5 separate regions of the Homo sapiens genome follow, and all the other regions are linked to region 4. Evidence: fine-mapped expression QTL. A gene starts in region 4. Each other region holds a variant in brackets. All regions are shown on one strand. Distances are between the middles of the regions.

What was found. PIP is the estimated chance that this variant, and not a neighbour inherited with it, causes the effect.
Region 1: its variant is the best candidate, but not a certain one, in a credible set for the expression of TBC1D22A in blood mononuclear cells (TOPMed, PIP 0.82).
Region 2: its variant is the best candidate, but not a certain one, in a credible set for the expression of TBC1D22A in whole blood (INTERVAL, PIP 0.63).
Region 3: its variant is the best candidate, but not a certain one, in a credible set for the expression of TBC1D22A in whole blood (INTERVAL, PIP 0.80).
Region 5: its variant is the best candidate, but not a certain one, in a credible set for the expression of TBC1D22A in whole blood (TOPMed, PIP 0.83).

Annotation. Positions count from the first base shown.
Region 1 is chr22:46,990,387-46,994,502 of GRCh38, forward strand. All of the region lies in intron 9 of TBC1D22A (TBC1 domain family member 22A), which reads left to right. Among named protein-coding and RNA genes, the nearest start is that of TBC1D22A-AS1, 76 kb to the left of the region's middle. RefSeq lists an enhancer at 2,874-3,702. The variant G/C (reference allele first, on the strand shown) is at 2,040.
Region 2 is chr22:46,978,824-46,982,939 of GRCh38, forward strand. All of the region lies in intron 9 of TBC1D22A (TBC1 domain family member 22A), which reads left to right. Among named protein-coding and RNA genes, the nearest start is that of TBC1D22A-AS1, 65 kb to the left of the region's middle. The variant C/G (reference allele first, on the strand shown) is at 2,154.
Region 3 is chr22:47,030,008-47,034,123 of GRCh38, forward strand. All of the region lies in intron 10 of TBC1D22A (TBC1 domain family member 22A), which reads left to right. Among named protein-coding and RNA genes, the nearest start is that of TBC1D22A-AS1, 120 kb to the left of the region's middle. RefSeq lists enhancers at 477-1,005, 1,006-1,533, 2,030-2,621. The variant C/G (reference allele first, on the strand shown) is at 1,972.
Region 4 is chr22:46,760,861-46,764,949 of GRCh38, forward strand. It overlaps TBC1D22A (TBC1 domain family member 22A), which reads left to right and starts at 1,790. Exons shown (of 13, transcript NM_014346.5): 1 at 1,790-1,988. The coding sequence starts at 1,927. It overlaps TBC1D22A-DT (TBC1D22A divergent transcript), which reads right to left and starts at 1,668. Exons shown (of 1, transcript NR_186691.1): 1 at 1,051-1,668. RefSeq lists enhancers at 837-1,671, 1,408-1,537, 2,238-2,317, 3,248-3,317, 3,358-3,437 and 1 more and a silencer at 2,438-2,497.
Region 5 is chr22:47,173,629-47,177,744 of GRCh38, forward strand. TBC1D22A (TBC1 domain family member 22A) reads left to right here. Exons shown (of 13, transcript NM_014346.5): 13 at 1-2,065. Among named protein-coding and RNA genes, the nearest start is that of TBC1D22A-AS1, 260 kb to the left of the region's middle. RefSeq lists an enhancer at 2,223-3,313. The variant G/A (reference allele first, on the strand shown) is at 1,932.

The DNA.
Region 1 (4,116 bases), 230 kb after region 4:
GGAGGTTAGAGAGGCCCCATGTGCTCCTCAGCGTCCTCCTTCAGCCCCAGCCTCCCTGTGATTAGTATCTCACATCACTGACTTCAGTGTGGCATATGTGTTACAATTGAGGAGCCAATATCGATACATTATTGTCAACTAAAGTCCACAGTTTACACCAGTTGTAGGCCGTGGGTTTTGAAAGGTGTGCAGTGACATGAGTCCACCAAGAAAGTGTCGCACAGTGTCGTCCCCTGCCCTGAACACCCTCGTGCCCCGCCTGTTCATCCCCTTCCACCCAACCCCTGGGCTTTTTACTGTCTCCATAGTTTCACCTTTGCCAGAATGTGACTTAGTTGAAATCCTGCAGTTGGAACCTTTTCATCCCACTGCTCCTGCTGCGGTGGCTTCTCTCCCCGTTGGCTTGCTGGCTGTCTCCCTCCCGCGCCGGCGTTCGTGACGGCTCTGCTCCTCGCCGTGTGCGTCTGGAAGTGACCATGGATGGCCTCCTCCTGCTGGTGTGCCGCTTTACTCTGCTGGTTGGCCCGTGTCTGAAGACAAGGGACAGTCACGTTTCCAGTGGTTTACAGAGGCACTGGTTCCTCTGGCCTGGCTGGGTTGGGAGCCTTCAGCCTTAAACCACTGTTTGATGGCTGACACATCATGGAAGGTGCGGAATTAGGGGGAGGTTGGGTTTGCACTCTATATGGGCATTGTCTTAGGTTCTTTTAGACACAGTAACTCAGTACCGCCTGTGCCCTTGTGATGGAGCCCTTCCTCTCTCCATTTCACAGATGGGAACACAGAAGATCAGAGAAATGAACCTGGCAGGTAGGAAAGCAGGGGGTTTGGTTAAACAAGGCTGCATAGAATCTGACACGTTTGTGCTCTGAGGGTGCTTTCTGAGAACATGCTGCCGAGCCCCGTCCTTGGCCCTGCCCTTCCCTCCTCTTGGCAGAGACTGTAGTGAAGACGTCAAGGGGATCCGTTTAACCAGTGCCTCTCAGCTGGGAGGGATAGCGAATGTGATAGATGGCACAATCAAGATTCAGAATGGGTTCAGCTGCCTGCAGTGCCAGCCGGGAACCAATCAAATGAATGAGCTAATAGGAACAAATGGCAAGTCCTACGTTCAGGTGCATGAGCCGAGCAGTCAGCTCAGCAGAAGGCAGTGTGGACAGTTGGGGTTCACTTTGTCTTCCGTGGGAAGCGCGTGTAGTCACTTTGCCTGGATTACGGCAGTTGCCTCGTGAATGATACCCCTCCATCCTCATTTGGCTCATTCCATTGTTTCTACATCATCTTTCCGTGGTGCAAATCTCTTACCTGCAGTGGCCTCCATTTGCATTTCATTACCTGCGTTTGAGAGCATTGCCTGGGTCTCACCGCTGACTCCGACGTGGCCTTCCAGCCTCGGAACGGTCTCCTCTTGCCTCAGCCGCAGCTTGCTCGCTGCCCTCCAGCTGCCCTGGCCTCCATTTCATTTCTGGGATGTGACATGCTCCCTCGGGCCGCCGGGGCTCTGCTGCATGGTGCCTGAACCCTCTCTCTCATCTCTGCTCAGACCTCACACCCTCCAAGTGGTCTTCCAGGACCAGCCCTGGTTCTGTGCTATGATGGTGTGGCCACCCAGGTCCTCGTTAGCAGTCAATGTGCACTTGCCTGGCGAGTGATGAACATTGGCTCAGCTGTCAGACTGTCATCCCTGTGAACAGAAGGGTCCTGTCTGCCTGTCCACTTTTCTCCCTGTCTGTGTCAGGGGATCCCAAGACGACCCCACAGAGCCACACTCGTGGCTGTGATTCTTCACAGTGCAAGGATGCAGAGGAGACTCCATCAAGGGGTAAAGTCCAGAGGAAGCGGTATAAGCTTCCAAGCCCCCTCCTGGCGGAGTCACACAGGACACGCTGGATCCCTCCAGTGCGGGGCTGGGACGACCCGTCCGAAACGTTGCCTGCTGGGGAAGCACATTAGAGACTCAGCACCGAGGATGTTACTGGGGACTGGGCATGCGGACACTCTCTGCTTGGCATGTGCCCAAATGCAGCCTCCCAGGAGGA[G/C]AGCAGGTGCCCAGGGTGAACCACCCTGCACAGTGTAGGCCCGCCGAGTCATCCAGATCAGTCAGGGAATCGTGGGAACTCTCCTGAAACCCACATTCTAGGCACCGGCCGGGGACCGGCCTTGCAAGCAGGACTCTCCGGGGATAGCATTCCCAGGCCTGCGTGTTTGACTCCTTCGCACACATCGATACTCAGGACTTGATTTTCTGGCACGTAGGAGGCTTTCAGAGTTGAACAGATGAAAGAACTAGTATCTGATGTGGTTCTGCCTTCCGCTGGACTGATGCGTTAATGGCTTTAATGTATTAATGGCTGACAGTGGAGTGCAGCTGTGACAGGAGGCTTCCTAGCTCTGTCCTTGCGTGGTCAGAGCCCAGCTTCTGTGTTCAGGGCTGGTGGCCAGGGGCCCCCGAGAGGATGTGGAAGGGAGTCTTAAGAGTTGAAGGAAATGGAAGTCTCTCAGGCCATTGCTTGCAGAAAAGACTTCCCGAGGTGTTTCAGAGGCAGGTCAAGGCCTGGGCGTGGAAGGCACATTTGGTTTCAATGTGGGGAAGACACTATGTTACGGTGAAATTAGCCTGGAAAGAAGAGGCTGGACTTTGTGGGGAGGTGGATCCCTGGTCCAGGTGGAAGAGCACTTTGTCAGAGAGGCAGGAGGGAGTCTAACTTCTCCGTGAGCTGGCAGGTTTGACTCTGGGTACTTCCAGGTGAGCTGATAGGAATTTATATTTCGACTCTTCTCTAAAATGCTCCCTAAGAAAATTTTATTCTACTTTTCTTCCAAAAAGTGCAGAAAGTGTTATTTGTTATCGGGAAGAGTGTGATGTTGTAATGGCAACAGGTGTAAGGCAAGCTGAGCGTATTTTTAAAAATTTATATTCACAGACTTCACCTTCTGTGAAACATTTCACAACAGATCGTTGTCTTCAGCCCTTCCTCTCTTCCCTCTGATGCATATGTTTTATAAATTATATCCTTTTTTAAAGATACCAGATCTCAATTGGAAAGGACATGCATACTTACTTTTTATGAAGGGAATAATGTTAATATTATTACTAATGACATTTTTATAAGTGTAGAGGATTCTTGCTTAGTTCCTGTTTTGCTGCCCAGGTACGTGTTCACCAGCACAGGTGATCTGGGTGCCAGGTGTGGGAGGCGGGGTGCTGGGCTGGGGTGTCCCGAGGGCAAATCTGGTTTCTGGGCCTTAAGCAGACAGAGCCTGTGATCTACCCAGGGGCCTTGGTGCAGCCTGCGGGCAGCTGCTGGGAGGGCCTGGGCGGTCAGTGCCTCCCTGGGACAGGCTGCTGCGAGGGCCATGGGACATTCTTTTCTCCCTCCTTTCCTCAGCCACCTGGCTCTGGATTCCTTGGCCACGGTGTCTGCCTCCTTAGAGTGCCCTTGAAGGCTTCCTGGCCCCAGAGCGGGGCCTTCTGCAGGCTGGGCTCACCTCCCGAGCCAGGAGCCAGGAGGGCCCAGACCGACCCCCCTGTGTCTTAGCCTTGGCGCCTCGCCCTCGGGGGGTGGGGCCGGGCGTCCCTGCTACAGCCTTCTGAAGGCTGGCCTTCTCCGCCCCTAGCCTGAAGCCAGAATGCCGAGGCCATAGCTGTCAGTCTTTGCAGGTCTTTCAAAATGCAAACATTTTCTCTTTCAAAATGCAGACCTTTTCGTTATTGGCTCTCAGGTGTCATTCTTTTTTTTTAATTGTTTGGATTTCTGAGAATCCGTCTTCCCTACCTGGGTTTTGAACAAATTGAGAAATAAAACAAAACTGTGCCAGATGGAGGCAAAGAATAACTTTTATTTCTGCTAACTGAGAGCCTAAAATCCTGTCTTAGTGGGAGAGCCACCGAATGGCTGACTGATCCCAGGACCCATCAGGCTCACCCACCCCATCAGAGCCAGTGTTGAGGGCCGGGCCCTGCCCACCTGCTGTGGAGCCTCTTGAGAAGTGCAAGGGGCTGAACCCACCTTCGCCTCTCCCCGTTTTGGCCTCCATGGGGCGAGCATTTCTGCGGCTAGAGCAAGTCCAGGAGAGGCAGCAGCTGCGCTCCAAGCTGACTCCAGGTCTGTCTGT
Region 2 (4,116 bases), 220 kb after region 4:
GTCTCAAACTCCTGACCTCAAGTGATCTGCCCGCCTCAGCCTCCCAAAGTGCTGCGATTACAGGTATGAGCCACCGCGCCCGGCCAGGAAGTGTTTTAATAGCCTTTTCAGGTAATTTTGGATTCTTTTTTCATTCATACTATACTATTACTCAACAAATGGTAGTTTCTTAAAGGGTAGTTGTGATATGAAATCTGAAACCTCATCAGTGAATGTTTTACACTCAGTTACATTAAAGTTGGTGGCCTATCTTGCACTTTGATAGGATCTTTTACCCATATATTGGCTCTGTAACATCATTCATTGGCGATTTGGAAAATATTGGCTGACTGAGGTGTGCAGATCTTTTAAATGTTGATAAGTTTCATCGTATGATCAAATTTGTTAGTATATTACCACCGTCTCATAAGAAGCAGCTGTCAGGCCCAGGGTGGCAGATAAAAGTCTTCCAAAATTCAGATTTTTAATTTAAAAGCTCAGATATTATCATTGGCAACAAACACAGTTCCTTGTTTCTTTTGAAGTGACAGGCCAACTTCATTCATTTTTGAGAAAATATCTTCCAGAGACCCGCGTTTGAATAACTGATTTGTCTGCTAGTCCTTCTTTCATGTAAACGTGATGTTTCTTGAAGAAAGTGTTCGGTTCAGCTCACAGCTGAAGCCAGCGCACCAAGTGCTCTCCTTGACGACGCTTCTGTTTCTGGATTTGCCCCTCAGGCTTTCCGTGTTCTTCCACGTGTTGGTCAGGGCTGAGCCTGAGCGCAGTGTTAATAGTAAGATGAGTGACCTTTCCTGCCGTATCCAGGGCGTCCTGAAGTGAAACAGCCTTTTGCTTTCACACCATGAGCGTGTGGTATTGGGAACACAGTGACGGTTGAGTGTGGTGAGGGCACTGCCCTGCCTGCTGCCAGCATGCCCGCAATTTTACCCACCACTGCCTGTGTACTGCCAGCACAAATGTCAGCACCGTGAGGAAGGTGAATCATGCCTTCATGTTACTATGACAGCAGTTTCAATATAACAGACCCCTTGAAAGGTCTAGGGACCCCCAGGAGTTGGCTGGCTACCGTCTGAGAACTTCTGCCCAGGAGGGATGATCTCCTGCCACAGGCCTGTGGCATTCCCATGGGAAGAGGCATCTGCAGATGACCTCACAGCAGACGAAGTACAAACCAAGCAGAGAAGGAGTGCGCCGGGAATAAATGTTAGCGATTGCTCTCGTTAGGAGGATTTGTACCCAGAGACCTGAGACACTAGAACAGCGATTTGAAAGGAACCAGACAATGTGTAACTTTAAAATATTAAGGAGAATGAAACAGTTTAAAATAAAGACTCTGAAGAAAGAACTCACAGATTTATTTATATTTATTTATTTGAGATGGAGTCTCGCTCTGTTGCACAGGTCGGAGTACAGTGGTGTGATACTGGCTCACTGCAACCTCCATCTCCCGGGTTCAAGTGATTCTCCTGTCTCAGCCTCCTGAGTGGCTAGGACTACAGGTGCCCACCACCACACCCAGCTAATTTTTGTATTTTTAGTAGAGACGGGGTTTCACCATGTTGGCCAGGATGGTCTCGATCTCTTGACCTTGTGATCCCCCTGCCTTGGCCTCCCAAAGTGCTGGGATTACCCAGGTGTGAGCCACTGTGCCCGGCTAGAAATCACAGATTTTAAATGGAACCAAACAGAACTTCTAGCATCGAAATTAGAGTCACTGAAATTTAAAACTCATTAGACAAAAGAGAAGAGAGAGTTAGTTAGAATTGAATGTAGTGCTGAGAAAATTACCAACTGGGCAACACAGAGAGATACTGAAAATATGGGCAGATTAAGACATGGAAAGATAGAATTTAAAAAATAGAACTAGAAAGAGAAATGTACTAGAGGAAAGCCAATATTTGTAAAGCTGTGGCTGGGAATTTTTCAGCATTGATGAGATGTTGTTACTAATATCTAATAAATCTCCAGAAAGATGAGTTGAAACTAATTACCTATGGAGACATGAGAGTGAAGCCACTGAATAAGAAAGAGAAGAGAAAGTCTCATAGGAAAGAAGAAAGGCCAGAAAAAAGTAGAATAATGTGTCTCATGTTCTGAAGAAAAATAGCTCTCCAATGAGATTAGATTTAAAAACAGAATCCAGCTATATG[C/G]TACTTACAAGACACCGAAACCACAAGGAGACAGGTAGAAAGGAAATGCAACAGAAGAATATTAACCAAAGTAATAGTTAGGTAGCTCTGTAGCCCATATGTAGCTGTGTAATAGCCGTGGAGCTATTAAATGAGATAGATTTTTAAGGCAGAAAGCATTCCTAGAGACAAAGAGTATCACTGCCAGTGGATACATTTACCAGGGAAGAGTTAATCTTGAATGCATGACCTTGACCCTGTATTTCTGCACATGTACATAAGTATGATGGGAGAGGGGTGGTGGTTGTCAATGCCTGACATGGTCCTGAGTGCTTCGTTGTAATATTAGTTCATTTTCCCTCACAGCAACCATAAGGCACTTCCAATTTTGTGGCTAGTTAGTTGCAGCATTGGGGTTTAGACCCACACAGTCCAGTACCAGCTTTCCTGCCTCTCAGTGATTAGTAGGTGATACGGTTAGGCTTTGTGTCCCCACCCAAATCTCACCTTGAATTGTAATCTCCATAATCCCCCACATGTCAAGGCAGAGACCAGGTGGAGCTGATTGGATCATGGGGGCGGTCTCCCCCATTCTGTTCTCTTGATAGTGAGTGAGTTCTCTTGAGATCTGACTGTTTTATAAGGGGCTCTTCCCCCACTTTGCTCAGTACTTCTCCTCCCTGCTGCCCTGCAAAGAACGTGCCTCTTCCTCTTTGTCTTCCACCATGATTCTGAGTTTCCTGAGGCCTCCCCAGCCATGCTGAACTGTGAGTCAGTTAAACCTCTTGTCTTTATGAGTTGCCCAGTCTCGGGCAGTTCTTTATAGCAGTATGAAAGTGGACTAATACAGTAGATCGAGCAGATAAGAATTAGGAAGATCTGGGAGGACGTGTACTGCACAGTTTGGGCAAATGGACATACCTAGACCCCCATATCCAGCACACAGAGAATATTCATTCTTTTCCAGTGTGCACAGAAGATCTGTAAGAATGGCAATACCAGCAGTTACTAGGGAGCCAGATAGACCAAGGTCTGGGTGGGGGATTAGCAGATTGAGAAGAGCATTCTAGACTAAGCTGGGACTCCATGGTGTGGGATCACTCAGAGTGCTTAGGGAGCAGGAGTGTGGGCTGGAGCTTGAGGCTGGGAAGCTGGGTTGATGTTTGACAGCTCTGGAAAGTCTGTCCTTGTGGCCTGCACCAGGTACTTGGGCCTGATCACTCATCTCTGGTGGATTGATGCCCTTCCTGCTAAGTGTTTAAGAGACAGTCTTTTTTTTTTTTTTTTGAGATGGAGTCTTACTCTGTCACCAGGCTGGAGTGCAGTGGCATGATCTTGGCACACTGCAACCTCTGCCTCCCGGGTTCAAGCAATTCTCCTGCCTCAGCTTCCCGAGTAGCTGGGACTACAGGCACCCGCCTCCACGCCCGGCTAATTTTTATATTTTTAGTAGAGACGGGGTTTCACCATGTTGGCCAGGATGGTGTTGATCTCCTGGCCTCATGATCCACCCGCCTCGGCCTCCCAAAGTGCTGGGATTACAGGCGTGAGCCACTGCGCCCGGCCAAGAGACAGTCTTTTTAGTCAGGGGCATTTGGTGTTGGGGGAAAAGGCAAAACAGCTACATTTCCAGATGTGCTGGTCTTAGGGGAGATGGTCTGTCCAGCGAGTAATGCCTGGAAAGCCACTGCTGGCCTACCGGTCGTGTGAACAACGAATCGATGTCATTGGCACTGCCCTGAGGGACGTCTAAGCTTGTGGAGGGATGTGGGATGTATTTGGATGAAGGAGGGGATTCAGGAGCCTAAACTAGGTGGTGGCGGGACAGGCATTGGCGGGCAGGTGCAAGAGCACTGAGGGCAGCTGTAGACCTTGTTGGCCATGCAGAGCAAGTGCCCAGTGTGGAGCGGTGGCAGCGGTGGGGCGCCCTCCTGCCTCATTAGGGCTGCTTAGAAATGTCTGGGGTGCTTTTCAGTGGTTGCTG
Region 3 (4,116 bases), 270 kb after region 4:
TTTCTAGCTGTCAGCGACATAAACCAAACCATGCAAATGAGAAAGGAGGTGGGCTCAGAGTGGGGGGCCTCTTGGTGCGGAGGGGCCCTGCTCACTGTCAGTGGCTCTTGCTTTTGTTCTTTTTATCTTTTTAACTGATTAGAGAATTGAAATCTTCCCCCAGAATCAAAGCCTATTCATGGCTGTCCCAGCCAAAGCGTGATGTATTTGTGTCTGTTCTCGGCTTTGTGCGGGGGGTTGAAAGGTTTTCTTTGTCAGGTGTCTAAGTGTGAGCCATTATGCTGCTCTTCGGGTGATAAATCTGAGTGTCTGGTCCTGCATAAACAGTGTGTGTTTTATGCCAAGTCAATGGGATACGTGTTTTTTCCATTTTAGCCTAAATCCTGGGACACAATGTGCTTGCATAATTTATTTTTATTTTTAATCAAGAAGACAAGATGTTTCAGCAGAATTTTCGGTCTGTGGATCTGCTGTTTAAAGTGCTGGGAAAAGTGTTCAACAAATATTGTGGTTGTTTCTCCAGCTTGCCAATATGACACATCTCTTCCTGGTGACTTTACAACAATAACGTTGCCTTGCCCTGCCACATAAGGGCTTTATGAAAAAACCTTTTCAGCCTGAAATATGACAATAATTACACCTGCCTGCTCATTCATTGTATGTATACTCTTATTTCCAGTGAAATGGAAATTTCAAATTCAGAATTATTGCCAACCAAATTACCTTTATCAGTGAAAGAGCATCTGCTCGCAATTACTTATAAAATAAGAAAAATGAATCCTTTCGGCATGTACATTTGCAGCTTTGATGTGTATAAATGGGAAGTAATGCCTGGAGTTTAGCAGCCCATCCTTCACCGTGCCCAGACGGGAGGAGGCTTTCCCGCTGGGGATGCACGTCCCGGCGGGGTGAGGCCCTGGCTGGCCACGCCCGCACCCTTCATGACGTGCTGCCAGAGAAGCCACGGAGTCGTGCTAAGTGACCACTTCCGTGTGAAGAAGGACACTCCCCGGTGCCTTCTGGATGGATGTCCCATGGGCTCCAGAATCAAGCCAGCTTAGCCAGGCTGTGTTGGGTGACTCAGCGGAGCGCTTGCCATGGAGTCCCTTGCTGTGGCCACCATGGTCTCGTGCTGTGCCTGCCATCACCTCTGGGTGGGCGTGGGTTTTGCCTTTTCACTCCTTTCAGGAGTTCAAGGTCCTGTGTCAGGCAGAAGGCCAGGCACTCAGGACACAGAGAGCTTGTAATTCGGGTGCAGTGCACAGCTTGGAGCCCGAAGGCTGGATTGCCTTGTCTGTTTCCTACAGGCTGCTGAGCCCCCGGCGGGCAGAAACAGGCCTTGTCTTCCTTGTAGCTTTGCTTTCAGAGGCAACCCTGGGAAGTGGAGGCCCTGGTCAATCTTTCCTTAAGGAACCAATGAAAGAGGAGCCTCTTGCCCTGGAACGGCCTTGCCTGTGCCTGTGAGGTTAACGCTGTGTCCGGTTTTCTGGTTAGTTCCTTGTGACCGGGTGCTCTTGCAGATGTACTGGGCTTTGCCCTGAGGAGGGTGGGTGGCTCTGCCCAGGGCGCAGGTGCCCAGAGATGCAAGGGTGGGTCCATGCTCAGCTCTGGTGGTGTGGGGTCGTTTCAAGGGGACAGAGTGGTGGCAATCCTCAGGCCCATCTTGGCTCGCCTGCCTCCTTGTGTGCACCTTTGGACAGGTCCCCTCACCTGCCTCACCTCACAGGTGAGGGGCCGGGGTCCCCAGGGTGTGAGGTGTGTGCCCCCCTTCAGGAGCTGTGCAGTGGGAGTTCGGTGCAGGTTAGCCGGCCATTGCACTCTGGCTGGAACGGGCTCCTTCTCCTCAAGTCAGCGTCCCTCAGGGAGGGGCTGAGGGCTTGGTGGCCTCTGTGCTTTCCACCCCTGAGTCCCTGCAAGTGGGGCAGGAAGGGTTAATTTGTACTCTGTTTAGTTACCACAATGACAGGTGTT[C/G]CAGAAATATGTGTTTAAATTTTCAAGTCTGTTTCTTGCCAGTTTGTGTTGGAAAGATGTCACCTGCTTCCCAGGCCCGTGGTAGAGTTGTCTGTTTTCCCAGGTGGGGACATGCCGAGCCCCGGCACAGGTGGGCTGCTGCTGCTCTAGGCAGGTGACAGACTGGCCGGTGAGCCACGGCTCCTCTTCTGCGTGTGACTCTGTGGTGTGCACCTTCCCCAGCAGTCACCTCATCCTCATCCATGGCAGCGGCTGCCCTGGGTGCCAGGCTGCCTGGTTAACAAATGTGTGCCCCGCACACATCACATGTGTGGTGGGCCATGGCCTGCCTTGGTGCTGGTCTCTGTTTCCGGACAAAGTCCCTGCCCTCGAGGAAGTCACAGTCTAGAGGATAAGACCCTCTGGCAAGTCCCACCCACACCAGGTCCCCCAGACTGGGTCCAGGGCCTGGCCCTGTGAGTGCTTGGTTGAGAGGCCTCATCATACACTGGATTTGTGCCTGGAGTGAGAGGAGAGAGGGAGTGGCCGCGAACACACACCCAAAGGGAAGAACACCCAGGCTCTGTAGCCCTGTCTAAAGCTCGCCTGAAGCCTCCTGTGTAAAATGTGGGCACAGCACTCGTGTCCTGGTGATTAGCCTGTGACTGTCCCACTGCTGCCTTGGTACACTGGGGCCCTGCCCTGGCAGCATTGGAGAACCTTCAGAGCAGCGGCCAGACAGGGATGTGCAGTGTGGCCGTGTGTCCCAGGAGGCCCCAGGCTGCTGACTTCAGCTTATCTCCACGGCAGAGCTTCATTCACGCCAGTGCAAGGCGGCACCCACTTGCTGCAGCCCAGACGTCCACGCAGAGCTGTGGGCTGGGAGTGGCCAGTGAAACCAGGTGCCACCTGCCAGGCCAGGCACCTGCCCTGGAACGTTCCTTTCACACTGCCGTCCCAGGCTGCCCTGTGTGGCCCCTCCTTCCTCAGGCGCTTTGTTTCAAGCAGTGATTTTCCTCTGGGGCTGTCGCTGTCGTCCTGGCTGCTCTTCCCCAAGTAGCCAACTGCTCCTTCATGGAAGCTCATTCTTTTTTCTGTGCAAAAGAGCCTTGTTGAGTAAATGGAGTCATTTTCTAAACAGCTGGTTTTAAGTGTTCAGACTTGAATTCCACGTGTCAGTGCGCTGGGGGCAGCAGAGTCTGGTAGCAGCTTGGGTGGACTTCCACCCTCCGAGGGGCATGGGCAGAGGTCAGGCCTGGATGGTGGAGCCCCCTCAGGGCTTCGTAGAACTTTCTATCAGTTTAGTTTTGTAGCTGCAGATTAACTTCAGGTTAGAAATGATTCTGTAAGTTCTTTGAAAAGAACGTCATGTTCTAGGGTGTGGCTGGAAAACTCCTCGCTATTGCTGTGTTGAGAAATAGAAGTAGAGGAGGACGGCCAGGCTGGGAATGTGTCCATCTTCCGGTTACCTGTTTGCTCTCTGTACTCATTCGTTCATCACAGTCACCTGACAGACACTCATGGATGCTCAGTTGTGTGTACTGGGGGCCGGGGAAACAAAGGCGACACAGACCTGGACCCACACCTGACCAGCTCACACCCCAGGGTGGGCAGGCACCCTGAGCACTTATGCCCCTTTCGTGATAAATGCTTCCATAGAGGTGTGTATAGAACGAAGAAGAGGGGGAGGCTCACAGCTTGGGGTGTTTCTGGAAGCATCCAGGAGTTTTGACGTCTGGGTAGCCTCGCACTGAGCAGAGACAGGTGCCCTGGTGGAAGGCTGCCATGAGGGTGAGCCCGGGGCGCGGGGAAGCCTGCGTGGTAGCATGGGTGTTGTTGGTCACCTGGTGCCACCGCAGGAGGCATGGCATTGCAGGGGAAGGCAGCGGTGAAGGCCGAGGAGGGAGTGGGGGTCTGGTGCCTTTCTTAGGCACTCTGACTTCATTCTGGGGGCCAGTGTCTCTTCATCTGTGGGGATCCTGAGACACCTCCTGGCACCCCCTTTGGTCTCTCTGTCCCCCGAGGGATGAGCAGCCGTGGGATTAAATTCTGCGGGGGCTTCAGCCTCAGGGGCCCCTCGGCAGCACCGTTTTGTTCTCTCCACTTGCCGCGCTGCCCTTTACTTATTAGAGACTATGGGAACCATTTTTTGGTAGTGAAATTAGT
Region 4 (4,089 bases):
CTCCAACATCTGTATTACTTTGGCTTTCAAAACTGGCCTTCTACTCAGACTTTCTTTTTCCATCTTCACGTTTCTGTTGTGATCCTAGTAATCCTTTGCTTAGCTGGTTTTGAAGCCTTCAAGTCAATCTCAGCCTCACTCCTTCGCCTGAAAACAGTAGCTAGCAAAGTATACGGTAAGCTATAAAAAGCACCCGGATCTAAGGTGTAACCAGTCACTAAGTGCTGCCAGTTTTTCCTCTGTCAATTGTTTCAGTTCTTCCTTCCTTTCCCCTTCCATCAGGTTAATCCTGCTGTCACCTCGCTCACTGGTTCTTGCAATAAGCCAGACTGAGCTGGAAAGAACCGCCATGGTCCTCAGTGTTGTCTGTAGGGGACCTCACTGTCTGAGGCTGTCAGGGCTCTGTCAGGAGGAGACCCCTGGGGCCTTCTGAGCCCTACTAGGAGAGGATTCTAGGAGAGTAGGACGCCTTGCACATAGTAAGTACTAAGTCAATGTTACTTACCAGTAAATGAAGAGGCATGGGAAATTGTTATTATTTTTGAGACGGAGTTTCGCTCTGTCGCCCAGCCTGGAGTGCAGTGGCACGATCTGGGCTCACTGCAAGCTCTGCCTCACGGGTTCACGCTATTCTCCTGCCTCAGCCTCCAGGGAAATTCTTAATCAGAAAATATGTCTTAGATTTTTGTTTTAAAAGAGAACTGGCAGGAGCTCCAAATACACTAAAGCTCCAGTCTGAAATGACAGTCCCTGAGCATTCAATCTTTGGTCTAAGAAGCACAGAAATGTAATGCAAACCAGACACGGTTTTTTTAGTGATTTTCTGCACACACACACACACACACACACACACACAGTAAAAAGATCTAGTCATAACGTGTGCACCTGCAGTTCCAACTACTGGGGAGGGTGAGGCAGGAGGATCACTAGAGGGCAGGAGTTCGAGACTAGCCTGGGCAACATAGCAAGACACCCACCCCCAGTCCCCCCCGGAAAAAAAGAATAAAAAAGGTAAAAATAATTTTAAAAAGAGTAAAAGGAATGTAAAAATAATTTTAATGCATTTTATTTAATCCAATACATTAAAAATGTTACCTAACATGCAAACAATATACAAATTATTTTATACGACGTCTTTGGAATCCTGTATTTTACACGTAAAGCGCATCTCACTCCGGACTAGCCAGGTTTCAAGCACGTGATAGCCGCACAAGGCTGGAACCCAGGCCTGGGGAATTAATTCTTGTCCTCGGTGCTCAAACCATTCTTCCCTTCAAGCCTGGCCTAATCCCCAGTCTCTCTCATCTCTTCGAATACGCTCCGCGGTTATGCCCCTCACCTCACTGCACTGCAAATATTTCGTCCACTGAGTATTTGCTGATCGTCACTCAGTGCCGGGTGACCCAGCTTGACCAGCACCCGCAGCCGCCCTGCCACTGTTGGGCCGGGTATGGTGTGTCTGGCTTCCCTCTGTTCTGGGCCGGCTCCGAAACGCGCTCAAGAGAAATCGGAATCAGACACGGGGCAGTTCAGCTTTGGAAATGAGGAGCTCGAGGCTCCTGGGAGTCCGTTGCGGGCAGGTGGGCGCCGCTGTTGTGTCGGGAGAGCCAGGAGCGACAGACTCAAACTCAGAAACCCAACCACCTCCGCTCCCTCCGCGATGCGTGTAACGTGCGTTGCGCGGCGTCGCCCTTTAATAACGACGGGCGCTCGGAGTGCTGCGTCACTCGCCACCAGGGACTTAGGCGGGACTTCCGGGCGCGCGTAGGCACAACTTCCGGAAGGAGGCGGAAGAGCTTCTCGGCTCTAGGCTCTGGAGTCCCGGGAGCAGTGAGGGGCCACCCGGGGCACAGGAAAGGGCCGCTAGGGGAGGGCCGGGTGCACTCGGGGTGTCTGGGCCGCGGGTCTGAGGGATGAGGAGGGGCCATGGCCAGCGACGGGGCCAGGAAGCAATTCTGGAAGCGCAGCAACAGCAAGCTCCCGGGCAGGTGGGTGTGCCGCGGAGGGCCAGGTCGGGGTCAGGGGTCAGAGGTCAGGTGGCCGCGTTGGCCTCCTGGGCTGCGGGTGGAGTCGGGGGTCTGGAGAGGGCAACTTGGACTCTGAGGAGACTGCTGGATGGTGTGACGGGCGTTGGGGGGCTCGGAGGTCGGAGCGTGGGGTCTGGGGGTGACAGTGGCTGCACGTAGGATCGAGGCTTGCAAGGACGAGGAGGAGCTATTGGCGTTTTTCCTGACACTGGCAGGCTTCTTTCCGAGAAACTCCTGGGCTCCTTGGGGAGGCTGGAAGGAACTGATTCGGGTCATGCTGTGAAGTTTGGTGGAGTCCGGAAGCTGGCCGGGCTGAGGCCCCCCGTCTGCTGGGTGGATCAGTTTCTGCAGGGGGTGTGGTGTTTTTGACCCACTTGATTTGCCTGTGGTCTCTTGAGGGCTGCGGCTCTTGCCTTGAGCATAGAAGAGGACTAGAGTTTCCCTGTGAGTTTCCATGTTTCTGCTTGCTGGTGTCAAAACCACCTCCTATGTTGTGTTAGCAGGAAGTTTTTTTTTTTTTTTTTTTTTTTTTTTTTTTTTTCTTCGGCTGGAATGACCTGGGTACACCCTAGATGCTATACAGCTCCAGAGCTCCAGAGTCCTTGTCTGATTGCTGTGGCGCTGAGCTATGCCAGGGCCCTAGGGAATGAGACATTACGTGGAGGGTACCTAGGATAAAATCAGCCACTGGTGAAAACAGATCAGAGATAAGCAAACGTCAAGATTTCAGAACATAGTTCTGTTCCAAAGCTGAAGTCTGGAATGCTGAAAATTATGAATTGTGTTACGAAGATAAGTCTGAGTAGAATCATTCATAAACACAGTAAAATGGTTTGTACTCCTGTTTCATAATAAATATTATTGTTTGAGTGTTTGAATGATAAACTTTGGAATTTACTGCATCCAGTTAGAAAAGTTTACTTTTGGCCAGGTGTGGCGGCTCACGCCTGTAATCCCAGCACTTTGGGAGGTCGAGGTGGACAGATCACCTGAGGTCAGGAGTTTGAGACCAGCCTCACCAACATGGAGAAACCTAGTCTCTACTAAAAATACAAAATTAGCTGGGCATGGTGGCACATGCCTGTAATCCTGGCTACTTGGGAGGCTGAGGCAGGAGAATCACTTGAACCTGGGAGGTGGAGGTTGCAGTGAGCCGAGATCGTTCCATTGCACTCCATCCTGGGCAATAAGAGCGAAACTCTGTCTCAAAAAAAAAAAGGAAAGTTTACTTTTAAGAGTGATCTGGGGGTTAGCAGCGTGAGTTACTGACAGCTCAGACAGTGGCTTTGAGAATGAAGGGAGTCATCAAAGGTGGCCGGAGACCCTATTCGACTCCACAGGACCGTGCTTGATTCGAGAACAGTAAGACCTTTCAACAAAACCAGTGTCAGGGTCCAAGGTGAGTGAAGATTCTGGAATGGTGGTGGGTAGGAGGTCCTGGTAGTGACAGGAACAAATGCTGTAGAACATAAGAGTCCAGGGAAGAGGAGCCACATGACAGTGTAACTTTTATGTGTTACTTTTAGGTCTTAAGGTTTTGGTTCCTCATCAGTCTAAACTCTAATTCTTAATCAGCTTAGATGTAAGAATAACAGAGCTGCTGTGTGGAGTTACAGCAGTGACTCAACCTTTGGATTGAAGGCTGTGGCTCTTGGTAATTTGTCCTTATACTGAGTTGAATTTATGTCCATCTGGAAACTATGGATGTGACATTTGGAAATAGGGTTTTTGCACAAGTAATCAAGGTAAAATGAGGTCATACTGGATGAGGGTGGGCCTTAGTTCGTCAACTAGTATTTTTATAAAAAGAGGGAAATTTGAATACAGAGAGACACACACAGGGAAATGGCCCTATGGAGACAGAAACAGAGATTGGAATAGTACATTTACAAGCCAAGGAAAGCCAGGGGTTGCTGGCAGCCACCAGAAGCTAGAAGAGGCAAGGAAGGATGCTCACCTAGAGACTTGACAGAGAGCATGGCCCTGCAGATGACCACTTGATTTTGGGTTTTTGGCGTTTAAAACTGAGAGAGAATAAGTGTCTGTTGTGTTAAGCCATTCA
Region 5 (4,116 bases), 410 kb after region 4:
CCAGGCCCACCCGCAGCTGGCCTCACTGTCCCGGGTGGCGCGCCCCACCTGCCTGGCTGGTGGTAGGCCCCTGTGAGCTGGTCCCGGGCTGCTAAAAGGCCTTGTGAGGTGGCCCCACCCTCCAGGGGAGCTGGTGAAGATGGGCCACAGACCTGGTCTAGGGCTGACAAAGACAGGGACAGCCTTTGTTTTCTGAGATACCAAAGAGAGCCAGGGGAGGGCCCCGGGTTCGGCGGCCAGAGGCAGGTCAGGGGTCCCCTCTCCCTCTCCCTGCAATGTCCTTGCCAAATGACTGCCTCGTGCTGCCCCTAGTCCGGGGCAGCCTAGGAGGCCGACCCTCTTTGGAGTCCTGCTGTCTGGGTGCCAGGGCCGGAACGAGGTAGTGGCCATCTCATACCTACTCTGAAATGCAAAACTTCTATTCTGTTGAGTGAAAGAATAAAATGTAGACAAAATCTAGACCGAGACGTTGCGCTGACCCGGGGTCTCTGTGCCGCGAGGTCCCCTCACAGCTGTATTTCACTGCTGCTGGCCCTTTCCCTCCGTGTGTTTTCCTGCTTGCTTGGTTTAAACGTGGCTGGGAAGCTGAAGGCTGGAGTCCAAGCCGTGAGCCCGCCGAGTGCCTGGGAGGCCGTGGGACCAAAGGCTGGGAGCAGAGGGAGGCCTCGCCATCGCCTTACTTTCCACCTTGAACCTCTTTTACAAGAGAGAAACCCCCACCTCCCTGAGGTCCAGGGCCAAGTGGCCCCGCCACGCAGGTAGGCGCCGGCCTCAGCCAGAGCCCCTGGAGGCCCACCCAGGCTGTCGGGCCATGTTGGGCTGGCAGACGGGCAGGGGGTCGCGTCCCTGTCATCAAAGCCCTGAACCACAGTGCTCTTCTCACCGCAGCCTGGAAGCGGAATGAGCTTTTGGAGACTTCCTGGGACTTGCTGTCCTTGTCCAGGTCTGCCAGGTGTAGGGGAGGTGTGACTGGTTCCATCATGGACCGGTTCCTCCATGGACCGGTTCCTCCGTGGACCGGTTCCGCCATGGACCGGTTCCGCCATGGACCACTCCTGCCCTGGACCACTCCTGCCCTGGACCGGTTCTGCCGTGGACTGGTTCCCGCCGTGGACCAGTTCCCGCTGTATACTGGTTCTGCCCTGGACTGGTTCCCGCTGTGGACTGGTTCCTTGGGGCTCTAAGTGCGGAAGGGCCCAGAGCTGGTCCCTGCCCAGCGCCCTGCTAGGGCTGTGTCCTTGGCTCCAGGGGCCTTGGGACTGGCTTCCCAGCGTTCCCTCGGTGTGTCACAGGCTGCATGACCCCTGGAATGCGGGCAGGGCCACAGCCACAGTCTGTCTGATCCCTGAGCCCAGGACAGGCTCACGTCCTCAGCGACCCACTGGTGACTGACTTCCCAGACTCTCCTCTGTCCCTCAGGAGCAGCCGTGTCCTCTCCCAGGCCCTAGGACACTGCCAGAGACTGTGGGACATACAGGCATAAGTGATGTGTGTGTTTCTGCTTCTGTTTTAAAAATCCAGGGTCATTACACACAGCATGGAAATTAGCACAAAATGCTGTGCAAACGTCAGATGCTCCCAAACCAGCAAAGGGATGGGCTTGCTTCACATCAGATGCGGGCACGCCTTACCCCTGCCTTCCGTGTCCCCACCCCAGGGTCAAGGGTTCCTCAGACCAGCCATGCCTCCTCCTCCTGCCGCCTCCTTTTCTAGATGGGGAGGGGATTCCGTCACAAGAAGAGCCGCCCCTCGGCCGTGTGCAGGAAGCCCCATGTCGCTTTGCCGAGATCAGCCCTGGGAGGATCCCCTTCTCCAGCTCAGATCATGCCGTGTGGCCAGAAGGCTGCGGACACAACTGACCTGCTTCTCGAGGTGGTTGATGTTTTAAACAGGAAGCTCCACGGAGTTCAGCCCTGTGTGCATTTCCTCAT[G/A]TATGTAAACGCCAAGACTGAATGTGAGAGGTGTTGGCCGCGGGCCTTAAGTCTGAGCAGATCCATCTGGAATGTTCGGGGTGTGCTGTCTGGATGTGGTGCGCTAAAAACACGGAATAAAGATCAGTGACAAAGCCGCGGCCTTGGCCTGTGATTCGAGGACTTGCCCATCGAGGACAGGGGCACCCTGGCCCAGCCCTGCCGAGGGTCTGAGCTCAGGGCCATTGCGGCGCACCAGCGTGGGCCCGGCAGCACCCGTGATCTCGCTGCCCCCCGCAGGACCTCTCAGGGAGATGGGGCTGCAGCTGCTCAGGTGGTGCAGGGATGCCACTTGCCCGGGCGGGGCAAGACTCAGAAACCAGTCTGACCCCCGAAGCCCGGCTCTGCACTAGCTGGAACACGGGAGTGTGGGGTCCAGGCTGGCCCCTGTCAGGCTCCTGAACAAGGGACCTCCCCTTGGGCCACATCTGTCAAGCACCTGCTTTGAAAAGGGCTGTTCCGGGGTAGGCACCAGGGTCTGGGGTCCCCCCCGCCTCTCCTGGGATACACTTGCCTCACCCTCACCCACACACTGAAACACCCTCCTTGCCCTGTGTTACTGAAGCAAGGCCCTTCAAAGGGCCTCAGTTTCTCAGGGCAGCTTTCCAGGTGCGCCACACCCCTCTGAGTAACCCCGTCTGGGTGCCCCACCCTCAGGTACCCCACACCCCCCTGGGTGCCCCACCCTCGGGACCCTCCCTTGGCAGCACTTGGCTTTCCACTGCCTTGTGCTGTCCGCTGACGGGTGTGGGGTGTGCTCCTGTCCCCGCGGGTGTGGGGTGTGCCCCTGTCCCCGCGGGTGTGGGGTGTGCCCCTGTCCCCGCGGGTGTGGGGTGTGCCCCTGTCCCCGCGGGTGTGGGGTGTGCCCCTGTCCCCGCGGGTGTGGGGTGTGCCCCTGTCCCCGCGGGTGTGGGGTGTGCCCCTGTCCCCGCGGGTGTGGGGTGTGCTCCTGTCCCCGCGGGTGTGGGGTGTGCACTACTGACCGGCTGTGGGGTGTGCTCCAGTCCCCACGGGTGTGGGGTGTGCTCCTGTCCCCACGGGTGTGGGGTGCGCACTACTGACCAGGTGTGGGGTGTGCTCCTGTCCCCGTAGGTGTGGGGTGTGCTCCTGTCCCCACGGGTGGGCTGGTGGCTCCACAAAGTGGGAGTAGCCTCTTCACCTCTCTTTCCACAGTGACCCAGTGCGGAGCTGAGCCAGGCAGGGCTGCCTTCCTGGGCCCGGTGGCCCGGCACATGGGCTGACCTCACTGTTGCCTGGCTGTGGTCTGCAGGGTCGTAGGCTGCAGGACGGAGATCGGCTGTCCCCAGCAGCCACCAGGTGTTCAGCTCCTGACTCCAGGTCACAGCCCAGCAACTGCCATTCACCTTCACGATTCCCCGGAGTTTGCAGCTCAGCAGTTGGCTCCTCGGGCCCAACTTGAGGTCTTCACAGCCTGTGCAGACTCTGCTCCTGTGGGTGGCCCGAGCCCAGGGGTCCTGAAATCAATCCCTGACCTGTGGTGGCTGCTGTCCTGTGCACCTCACCCTGCCCGGTCCCAGGGAGAGGCTCGGCCTGCTGGCACCACTGCTGTGCCCTTGGCAAGGTCAGACGCGTCGGGGAGCATTGGGGTCCTGGGGAGTAGGAGATGGAGAGTCTCTGTGGTTTGTACTTTTGGAAGAACTAGGAGGTGGGACGCTTCTGTGCCGTGTCACCGATGGATGGAAACAGGAGGAATACTGTCTGTGTTCAAGCAGACCCACTCCGCTGAGGACTTGGGGACAGGCTGCAGAATGACACGCGCCATCGCAGGCTGCAGCATGCCAGCCTCCATGCCGCCGTCCTCCAGAGCTGGAGGCTCCTCGTCAGCCCTGTGGCCCCAGTGATCTGCTCTCGGCCGCAGTCCTGGGGAGTTTGCCCAAGACTCAGACCCCTCGGGGTGTGGACCTCCCTGGGGCCTTCCCAGCCCCAGTCCACCCCACCGTTCCTCTCCTCTCTCAGCCCCAGCCCCTTGGCTTCCTTCTGGCTCTGCACTTTGCCCTGCGGGATTGCGGGCTGCTTGGGGTGGCCCCCACTCAGCTGTGAGGCCTTTCCACACCCACCCTGCAGCTCCTTGGCATGGAGGGTCCCCAGCACAGGATGGCCTCCACCCAGGAGGCACACGGCCGCT